2 separate regions of the Homo sapiens genome follow, and region 1 is linked to region 2. Evidence: fine-mapped expression QTL. A gene starts in region 2. The other region holds a variant in brackets. All regions are shown on one strand. Distances are between the middles of the regions.

Region 1 (5,367 bases), 56 kb before region 2:
GCTGACGTGGGAGGATCACTTGAGCCCAGGAGTTTGGGGCTGCAGTGAGCTATGATTGTGCTGTTGCACTCCAGCCTGGGCAACAGGGCAAGACCCTGACTCTTACAAAAAAAAGCCCCATGATGTTTGACTTTAAAGTTGTGGCTGCAATGCCTGCAGCAAGCTGACATCCAGTAGGTGCTCGGGAAACATCTGCTGATCGAACGATGGCTTTATCCACTTGGATAATGAGTAGAGTTCATTAGAGGAAAGTGAGGGCTTCTGTGTAAGTGCAAATGGCCACAGAACGGAGGCGTATGCCTTTCAGACACAAAGCCCTAAATGGCATGGGATTTCTCCCTGTCTTTAAATGCCACTGCTTCTTCACTGGGACATCAGTGACACCTGGATCTCTCTGCATGAGGACACACATTCCTGAAGGGCAGTATGGGCCTGGTGTCAGGGTGAGCCAGTCAATTCCCCAGGGCCATCAATCTGACACCTACTAAATGACTTCACTTTTGTATCTTTGTTAGAGTTTTGTTTTTCTTTTTTTTTTGTAGAGACAGGGAAGGTCTTGCTATGCTGCACAGGCTGGTCTTGAACTCCTGGGCTCAGGTGATCGTCCCATTTCAGCCTTCCAAAGTACTGGGATTGCAGTTGTGAGCCACCTCACCCAGCCCTCTGTATGACTTGTAGCATATATTTGGAAATCAGAAAAATATATCCATCTCACAAATAAAGGATGTAGAATGCCTTACCCAAGGTTGCTACCTCATCTACGTGATTTTTTTTTTTTTGAGACGGAGTTGCACTCTGTCGCCCAGGCTGGAGTGCAGTGGCGCGATCTCAGCTCACTGCAAGCTCCACCTCCCAGGTTCACGCCATTCTCCTGCCTCAGCCTCCTGAGTAGCTGGGACTACAGGCGCCCGCCACCACGCCTGGCTAATTTTTCTTTGTATTTTCAGTAGAAATCGGGTTTCACCATGTTAGCCAGGACGGTCTCGGTCTCCTGACCTTGTTATCTGCCTGCCTCGGCCTCCCAAAGTGCTGGGATTACAGGTGTGAGCCACCGTGCCCGGGTGTTTTTTTTTTTTAACTTTGTAATGCTAAAAAGTAGCTTTTATGTTTCCTTCCTTATGATAGCAAAGCAGCCAAAGTGAGAGGCTGCAGGGAGCAGGGCAAGGAGGTGACTGTCTCCATCAGCAGCCCCTGGGGTCACCTTAGGGTTCTCAGGGAAAGCAAGAGAGGGTTGCAACAGGGCCAACAGGTTTCAAGTGGGGTGGAAGGGTCCAGACCAGCACAGCTCTGGTGCCTGGAGGATTCAGTCCAGGGCTGAGTGTTTCAAGGCTTCTTATTCCTTAAAACCAAAGTAACTTTTAAAAAAAAGGCTTTTTTTGATTGTAGTTTTTAGACATGGTATCCCTCTGCCACCCAGGGGGAGTGCAGTGGTCCTCACTGTAACCTCAAACTCCTGGGCTCAAGAGATCCTCCTGGCTCGGTCTCCCAAGTAGCTGGGACTACAGGTGCATCTCACCAGGTCCTACTAATTTTGTTTTTTGAGATGAATTTTCGCTCTTGCTGCCCAGGCTGGAGTGCAATGGTGTGATCTTGGCTCATGGCACCCTCCGGCTCCCGGGTTCAAGCGATTCTCCTGCCTCAGCCTCCCGAGTAGCTGGGATTACAGGCATGCGCCATCACGCCTGGCTAATTTTGTATTTTCAGTAGAGACGGGGTTTCTCTATGTTGGTCAGGCAGGTCTCGAACTCCTGACCTCAGGTGATGCACCCGCCTTGGCCTCCCAAAGTGCTGGGATTACAGGCGTGAGCCATGGCGCCTGGCAGGCCCAACTAATTGTTTTACTTTTTTGTAGAGATGGGGGTCTCGCTATCTTGCCCAGGCTGGTCTCAAACTCCTGGGCTCAGGAGATACTACCACCTCAGCCTCCCAAAGTGCCGGGATTACAGGCGTGAGCCACCATGCCTGGCCTGTTGTTGTTTTGTTTTTATAAGAGACAGGGTTGGCTGGGAGCAATGGCTCACGCCTGTAATCCTGGCACTTTGGGAGGCCAAGACAGGTGGACTGCTTGAGCTCAGGAGTTTGAGACCAACCTGGGCAACATGGCAAAACCCCATCTCTACAAAATATACAAAAATTAGCTGGGCATGGTGGTGTGTGCCTGTCACATCAGCTACTCTGGAAGCTGAGGCAAAAGAACCACATGAGCCCAGGAGGCAGAAGTGGCAGGGAGCTAAGATTGCGCCACTGCACTCCAGCCTGGGTGACAGAGTGAGACTTTATCTCAAAAAAATAAAAAATAAATAAATAAATAAATAAATAAATAATTAAAAAGACAGGGTTTTTGTCACCCAGGCCGGAATGCAGTGGTGCAATCATGGCTCACTGTAACCTTGAATTCTCAGGCTCAAGCACTCCTCCTACTTCAGCCTCCCAAGTAGCTGGGACTATAGGCATGTGTGGCTAATTTTTCAATTTTTTTTTTTTTTTAAGAGACAGGGTCTGGCTATGTTGCCCAGGCTGGTCTCAAACTCCTCCCGCCTTAGCCTCCCAAAGTGCTAGGATAACAGGCATGAGCCACCATGCCTGGCTCAAAATCATTTTTTTTTTAAACTACCCTATTGCTTGCAACACCTCTGGGATGGAAGCACAGCATTTAGCAGCTTCCCTGGCCTCTTGCTGCTGTGTGACTGTGGCTAAGCACATTCTCCTGCAGTGGCTGGGTGTCATCACAGGTGAGTCTGAGGTGGGCCTTACCCTGTTAATTTGTTGAGGATCCAGGGAGACCTTGCTCTGTGAAGCACCAATGCAGGGCCTGGCATGTAGTAGGTGCCAATGATGCTATAGTAACTGGCAATCAGGAAGTAGAAGAACCGGGGTGGGAGAGGAAGGGACCAGCTGGTAGAACCGTGAGGTGATGGTTCCTAAACAGATTTCACATCCTGAAGTCAGAGGTGACTCAAGAGTGAGAGGGAAGGAAATAGAAACAAAAACAGGAGGAAGCACAGATCACTTCATGAAACTGC[G/A]TAACGGCCAGCTCTGCACAAGTCTCTGCTCCCTGCAGATGGGACACGGAATTTAGCAGGACACAGTTGTGATCCTGAAGAATGAAAGAACTGCTTACGCTGGGCCTGATGAGGAGAGGCTCAGAACCTAGCCCTGTTGGGTCTTAAGAGAAAAGGAAGCATTTAATCACTTGCTGAGAAAGTGAACCATAGATGCTCAGGCTAAACCTGGATGCAGAATTAAGTATCTGACCAGCACAGTCTGGAGCTGCTTTCTAAGTCAGATGAGCAAAACCACCATTAAAAAGCAGCCCTGTTCCAACCACAGAGAAAGCACGCATGGCATTGACACAGAGAAAGCAAGCATGGCATACGCAGTCAGAAAACACCACTGTTCAAAGAATGACTGCCTGGATTATAGAAAATAGTAAGTTCTTCCAGAGAGGCGGCATTTAGTCCTGGGTGGCTTTCAAACCAGGAAAACCTAAGAATGATGGTGCACTTCCCAGGCCAAGGGATAAAAGGGACTGTGATCAGAAGTAAGAAAGTTAAAGGGGTGGCTGGGCGCGGTGGCTCACGCCTGTAATCCCAGCACTTTGGGAGGCTGAGGCGGGCGGATTACGAGGTCAGGAGATCGAAACCATCCTGGCTAACATGGTGAAACCCCGTCTCTACTAAAATTACAAAAAATTAGCCGGGCATGGTGGTGGGCGCCTGCAGTCCCAGCTACTTGGGAGGCTGAGGCAGGAGAATGGCATGAACCCGGGAGACGGAGCTTGCAGGGAGCCGAGATCACGCCACTGCACTCCAACCTGGGCAACAGAGTGAGACTCTGTCTCAAAAAAAAAAAAAAAAGTTAAGGGGGAAACGGATATGCAGGTACATTCTCTTGATTCAACAGCAGATGTCCAAATGACCAAGATGGATCTGTCTGCTTAAAAGACAGGTGGGAAAATAAGAAAAAAGCCATAGGGCCTGGAAGAGAGGAGAAGAATGAAAACTTACAGGGATGGGTGTACAGCAAGAAGAGAGAGAACAAGAGGAAAGCAAAATATAGAAGAACACAACCTGTCAGAATCTGCAGAAATGGCATTGCAAAATTTTTTTTTTTTTTTTTTTGAGACAGGGTCTCTCTCTGTCACCCAGATTGGACTGCAGTGGCAGGAACACGGCTCACTGATGCCTCGACCTCCTGGGCTCAAGTGATCCTCACGCCTCAGCTTCCCAAGTAGCTAGGACTACAGATGTGAGCCACCACGGGCCCGCTAATTTTCAAATTTTTTGTAGAGACAGGGTAGTGCCCAGGTTGGTCACTGCGAATTCTCTAGCCAAGAAATGTCTAAGTAAAGTGACAATGCTTATAGTCATCAACTATTTACTTAGGGGAGTCCCAGAGCAGCCAAAACACACCCACATCACTGCCAAAACCATACTCAGAGAAGGAAGGCTTTCAGGTAAAGTGTCCTGCCATGCACTGTAACAGCTCCAGAATCTGCTGAGCAGACCCAGGGAACAAGGCGGCCGGCAGGTGTTCTGAGGCCCTACAGAGGCAAGAGTCACCGAGACACCAACTACTGTGACCCCAAAAAAGCTGCTGAGGAGTTCGAGACCAGTGTGGCCAACATAGTGAAACCCCATCTCTAATAAAAGTAGAGGCCGGGCGCAGTGGCTCACGCCTGTAATCCCAGCACTTTGGCAGGTCGAGGCGGGTGGATCATGAGGTCAGGAGATCAAGACCATCCTGGCTAACACGGTGAAACCCCGTCTCTACTAAAAATATAAAAAATTAGCCGGGCGTGGTGGCAGGCGCCTGTAGTTCCAGCTACTCAGGAGGCTGAGGCAGGAGAATGGCATGAACCCAGGAGGCGGAGCTTGCAGTGAGCCGAGATCGCGCCATTGCACTCCAGCCTGGGCGACAGAGCGAGACTCTGTCTCAAAATAAATAAATAAATAAATAAATAAATAAATAAATAAATACAAGTAGAAAAAATTAGCCTGGCATGGTGGCAGGCACCTGTAATCCCAGCTGCTTGGGAGGCTGAGGCAGGAGAATAGTCTGAACCTGAGAGGCAGAGGTTTTAATGAGCTGAGATTGCGCCACTGCACTCCAGCCTGGGCAACAGAGTGAGAGTCCATCTAAAAAAAAAAAAAAAAAAAGCTCCTGGGGAGGCTGTGTGTGGTGGCTCACACCTGTAATCCCAGCACTTTGAGAGGCCAAGGCAGGTGATTGCTTGAGGCCCGGAGTTTAAGACCAGCCTGGGCAACACAGTTAGACCCTAGCTCTATAGAAAATATAAAAATAAATACAATCAAATTTTTAAAAAGTTGCTGAGGAAAGGAAGACATACCCTCTTTGACTCTGATG
Region 2 (5,367 bases):
GGAACTGCTGTCTTTAGTGCTAATCCCCTCCTCCTGTTATCTGTTTTGCCTTCCACAGAACAATCCCAGACGGCCTTACTACTGAGTGTTCTGGAAATACATACTTTCTGAATGACCAACCGTCCCTGGACTGTGGAATGTTCCGGCCTGCATTTCTGCCCACCCCTTCCGTTGTCACGAGTGCCGTGCCGTGTAATAAAGTCCCAGTGCTCATCCACCACAGATGCCTGGTCCTGTTGCAGGAAGCCCCTCCTGTTAGCAGCGGGATGCAAGATGCTGTCTCGGGGCTCTCCTTATTGGCCTGTGGAGTCTCCATCCCCGCTCAGCCTGGGTTGCACTGGAGGGGAGGAAGAAAGTTGTTTTCAGCATAGTAAAGCTGGAAGGCCAGGTGCAGTGTCTCACCCCTGTCATCCCAGCACTTTGAGAGGCCAAGGCGGGCGGATCACTGGAGGTCAGGAGTTTAAGACCAGCCTGGCCAACATGGTGAAATCCTGTCTCTACTAAAAATATAAAATTAGCTGGGCATGGTGGTGCACACCTGTCGTCTCAGCTACTCGGGAGGCAGAGGCAGGAGAATGGCTTGAACCTGGGAAGCGGTTGCAGTGAGCCAAGATTGCGCCTTTGCACTCCAGCCTGGGCAAGAGAGCAAGACTCTGTCTCAAATAATAATAATAATAATAAAGCTGGAGACTTGGCCACACCTGGGCTAAAGGAATGTCAGGAACCTCCGAGCCTAGCACTGTGCTGCAGAGGGAGGTTGGGGAGGGGTCTCCAGGCAGGGCCCCACCTTCCCTCAGACCTGTGGGGGCAGGTGGCTTCTGGGCACACCCATGTGCTCTCCTGGCAGGTGGTGCTGGCACGGCCCAGCACACAGGTGTTGGCTGTGGCCCTTCAGGTCCCACCAGTGTGGTAGGCACACGAGTCCCTGGGGCTTGTGTCGTTAGGGGACAGCCGCATGGATGCATGGATGTGCCATGCCAACATGTCAGGCAGCTCCTAGAAGGAAGGGCCTCAGAGCCGGAGGTTTTGAGGCAGGAGGGTAGCCCAGGCCACAGTGTGTGCCAAGACCCCCACATCTGCCCCAGGGCCAGAGCCCCACATTTGTGCCTAAGTCACCCTGGGGATCTTGTTAAGCTGCAGCTGCCGAGTCAGCTGGTTGGGCAGGGCCCTGGGAATTTGCATTTCCATCTGCCCCCACCCCCTCCACACACACCCAGTGGGTGCTGCCCAGCCCCTGCAGGCACCAGGGGCTCCCTATTCACATGCTTGGCATGGAGTCGGGCTCCTGGGCCAGCTTGTGTTCACACAGCCATTCAGCAAACACTAGGTGCCAAGTGTGGGGACCAGGTGGACAAGATCTACTCCAGTCAGCCAGGCTGCTGGGGATGAGGTCTGAGGCTGCTACTGAGAGGAACCAGGGAGCCGTGGTGGGGCGGTCTGCAGAGTGTCTCAGTGGGGTCTGAGACCAGGGAGGTGCCAGATGCAGTGGCAGAGCCAAGGCTGGGGTGATATACCACCCTTTGTTCTTTCCTGACGCTGTGGCTGAGGCAGAGCAAAGAGTAACATTGGTGGGCTTGGCCTGGGTGCCCATGAATGAGGGCTGCCCAGAAGGCAGTGGGCCAGGACCCTGAGCACAGCGGGGTAGTTCTCTGCAGCCAGTGGTTCAGGGAATCCTGGCACTGGGTCCCAGGCATTCAGCCATCCAAGTCACTTCTCAGTTCTCAGCAACCTGGAGGCTCACCAGGCTCAGGGCATGGACTTTACCCCTTGCCAGGGGACGAGGCCTCCAAGTGCTGTGTGCGTGTGCAGGTGCATCCTGTACACGGGACAAGGCCAAGCCCCTAGGCTGAGCTGGGCACAGGCACCCTGGCCTTGTGTGGAGAAGGTGGGGTGGGGGTGGCAGGCAGGGCTGCCTGGAGGAGGGGATGCTGGGGCCCGCTTACAAGAAGGCTCATTTTACAGACAGAAAGCAGGCCTGGGGGGTGTTGACCCTGCTAGAGTTGGGGAAAGTCCAGGGGAACCTGAACTTCACCCATGGGCAGTGGACACCTGGGGAAGGAGGCTGAGTCAGACCTGCGGCCAGAAGACCCTCTTGTGGCCCAGTTCAGGAAGACCTGTGACCCAGTTGGCATCAAGCTAAGGGGCTGCGTGCAGAATGGGGCCTGAGGTAGGGGCAGTGGTTAGAATTTGTGCCAGCTGCAGACTGGGGTCCCGCAGGGCAGGCGTCAGGTGGGCATGGTTCACCTTGCTGTCTGCAGCATCCACAAGTACTCCACATGGGCCAGAGTCTGGTTGGAGGGGGTGACAAAGACAGATGGTCTCCTTATTCTCCCCCCCAATACTGTGGCCCCCTCCCAGCTGTTCAAAACCTCCCACAGCCTCTCACAGCTGTCTCGCTTCTCATCACACCCCAGCAGAACCGACCTCCTTTCCACTGCTCAGTTCCAAGCCTGAGCCACTTTCCTCCCTGCCAGGAACACCGTTCCCAAACTCTTCACCAAACTGGCTCCATCCCGATATTCTAACTTCAGCCCCCACCCGCTAGGACCCCTTCTACCCTCTCCCCGAAATGAAGAACCCTAAACCCGGGACTAGCCTGCAAAGGGACAGCCCCGGAGTCAAAGCCTCACACTTAAAGACCCCTCGCAGTGGCTCACGCCTGTAATCCCAGCTCCTCGGGAGGCTGATGTGGGAGGATCTGTTGAGCCCAGGAGTTTGAAACCAGTCTGGGCAAAAAAGTGAGACCTCTGTCTTTACAAAAAATAACTAGCTGCGCGTGGTGGTGCATACCTGTAGTCCCAACTACTTGGGAGGCTGAGGTAGGAGGATCTCTTGAGGCTGGGAGTTCAAGGAGGAGGGCCACTGCACTCCAGTCTGGGCCACAGAGTGAGACCTCTCAAAAAACAAACAAAAAAACTTCACACCTGCCTGGAAACACGTTTACATTTGTGGCCACCTTATGAAAACTCAAATCTAAGCCCACTGAAAGGCATTTTGCACCCAAGAGCTGGAGGTTGCTCCATCCGTGCGCACAGGGAATGCCGACTTGATCTTTGGGTGGGGATGGGAAACTCTGGGGAATGCAGAGGTTTAGAAGCGCAGAGTCCAGGAGAAAATTTCCTTAGAACGAAGTTGTGGAGGCAGGGGAAAGAGGGGGCACGCCAGGACCTCCAGGGCGCACCCCTTGGCCTAAGAGCAGAAGCATCCCGAGGTGTTGTGTCCCAGCCTTTGACAGTGAGGGAAACTGAGGCTGAGTAGCGGGACGGCCATTGGAGACGAGGGTGTCGATGGTGAGGGGCGAAGGGGCGGGGCAGCTGCCAGGGGGAGGGCCGGGGAGGGGCCTTGGAGGCTCCCTGGGAACACGCAGGGCGGTCACGGCGGCCTGCCCAGGGCGCAGCGGGGTCGACCTTTGTGCGGGGCGGGTCCCTGGCAGCCTCGGCCCGGACTCGCCGCCAACGAGGAGCCGAGCGCCCTGGAGAACGCGTCGGGGCTGAGCCGGGGTCCAGCAGCCGCCGCTATGGACATCCCGCCGCTGGCCGGCAAGATCGCGGCGCTGTCGCTGAGCGCCCTCCCGGTGTCCTACGCGCTCAACCACGTCTCGGCGCTCTCGCAGTGCGTGCGGAGAGGGGCCAGGGCGGCCTTGGGGACAGTGGGGGCGGGCGGGGGCGGGGAGGACTGGAGGTGGGCTGGAGGGAGGATGCGCGGTCCGCGGACCTGGCTTCTGCGAGCCCTGCGCCCCAGCTCAGCTCCGACCCGGCAGGATTGGGGTGGGCCAGAAGAACACCCCCCTCTAACCGGAAGTCCCCTTCCCGCCGGGCTGGAGGCTGGGATGCGGCCGCTCCTGGGATGTTTGTGGCCTGGGAAGAAGGAATGATGAGTCCCCACAAGCCAGAGCTTTGGAGGGTTTCTGGGGTTTTCCCAGGGATGCGCCCTGCCTAGGTTCCAAAGTCACCAAGGGTAAAAGTATTGTCCCAGATAAGGCCCCGGGTACCTGACTCCTGCTCACACACACACACACACACACACACACACACACACACCCTACTCCATTGCCTGTCTCAGGCCTGTGACTTTCCTCTTGTTCAGGGCTGGCTAACCATGTCCCTAGACTCAGTTCCCCCTACTGGTTCCCTTTCCTGGTCCCTGTCTCCTAACCCTAGATCCTAGCCCTGTGGGTCCAGCCACCGGATAGTGGGCATCTGCAAGCCCCTCGTACTTCTAAACCCAGCTCAACCCAAGCCATGGGGTGGAGAGAGTCTTAACCATGAGCCTGGCTCCCTGGGTGGGAATACCCATCTCCATCTCCTGGGATCCTGGGTGAGCCAAGTTCCTCTGGGAGCCTCAGTTCCCTCATCAGTGTAATGGGCACGATCCTAGATCTCATCTCATAGTTACGGTTAAGGATTATAAACTGTGTACAAAGATTTGTCTTGGTCTCATCTGAGTACTATAATGTCATTGTTAGATGGGGTCAGGATGGAAATCTTGGGTTCTGAGGGGATCATGAGAAAATAGGGGCCTGGAGAGTGATGGACAGAGTCTTGAGTGTGACCCTGGACAACTGGACAGTACTCCCATCCTCTCTGGGCCTGGATTTGCCCACCTGGGTTGAGGGCTGCCCAGAGACCTGGCTTCTGTTATCTATGCAACTGGTTGACCTGTCTTATCAGGTTGTGGGTGCAGATCAGGGCAGGGGTAGGGTGGAGTTAATAGAGGCATTTGGACTTTAGCTGGGAGGAGCTGGGAGCGTCAGACAATGAAGTCTACAGAACTGAGCACTCGAGACCCTGTGGCTTGGGAGCTGGGCCTGGCCACAGAGGGGCTTGACGTTGTCGAATGACTGAACAGACTGAGTCAAACACATAACAAATGATGGGATAAATGGTAAAGTCAGAAGGGGCAGGCCAGGCGTGGTGGCTCATGCCTGTAATCCTAGCACTTTGGGAGGCCGAGGTGGGCAAATCACCTGAGGTCAGGAGTTCGAGACCAGCCTGGCCAACATGGTGAAACCCCGTCTCTACTAAAAATACAAAAATTAGCCGGGTGTGGTGGTGGGCACCTGTAATCCCAGCTACTTGGGAGGCTGAGGCAGGATAATCGCCTGAACCCAGAAGGCAGAGGTTGCAGTGAGCCAAGATTGCACCACTGCACTCCAGCCTGGGTGTCAGTGCTCTGTCTCAAAAAGAAAGAGAGAGAGAGAGAGAAAGAAAGAAAAAGAAAAAAAGAAAGAAAGAGAAAAGAAAAGAGAAAAAGAAACAGGCTGATGAATATCCCCTCTGTAGCTAGCCCGAGTTAAACAGTGATCCTTTCTGGGGAGTCAGGGAGCGCTTCATGGAGGAAGAACAATGTGGATGGGCCATGAAGGAT

The links. PIP is the estimated chance that this variant, and not a neighbour inherited with it, causes the effect.
Region 1: its variant is fine-mapped to the expression of TM6SF2 in cerebellum (GTEx, PIP 0.91).

What each region holds. Positions count from the first base shown.
Region 1 is chr19:19,326,914-19,332,280 of GRCh38, reverse strand. All of the region lies in intron 1 of MAU2 (MAU2 sister chromatid cohesion factor), which reads right to left. Among named protein-coding and RNA genes, the nearest start is that of MAU2, 8.8 kb to the right of the region's middle. The variant G/A (reference allele first, on the strand shown) is at 3,024.
Region 2 is chr19:19,271,366-19,276,732 of GRCh38, reverse strand. TM6SF2 (transmembrane 6 superfamily member 2) reads left to right here and starts at 3,432. Exons shown (of 10, transcript NM_001001524.3): 1 at 3,432-3,612. The coding sequence starts at 3,518. It overlaps SUGP1 (SURP and G-patch domain containing 1), which reads left to right. Exons shown (of 14, transcript NM_172231.4): 14 at 59-700. The coding sequence ends at 85.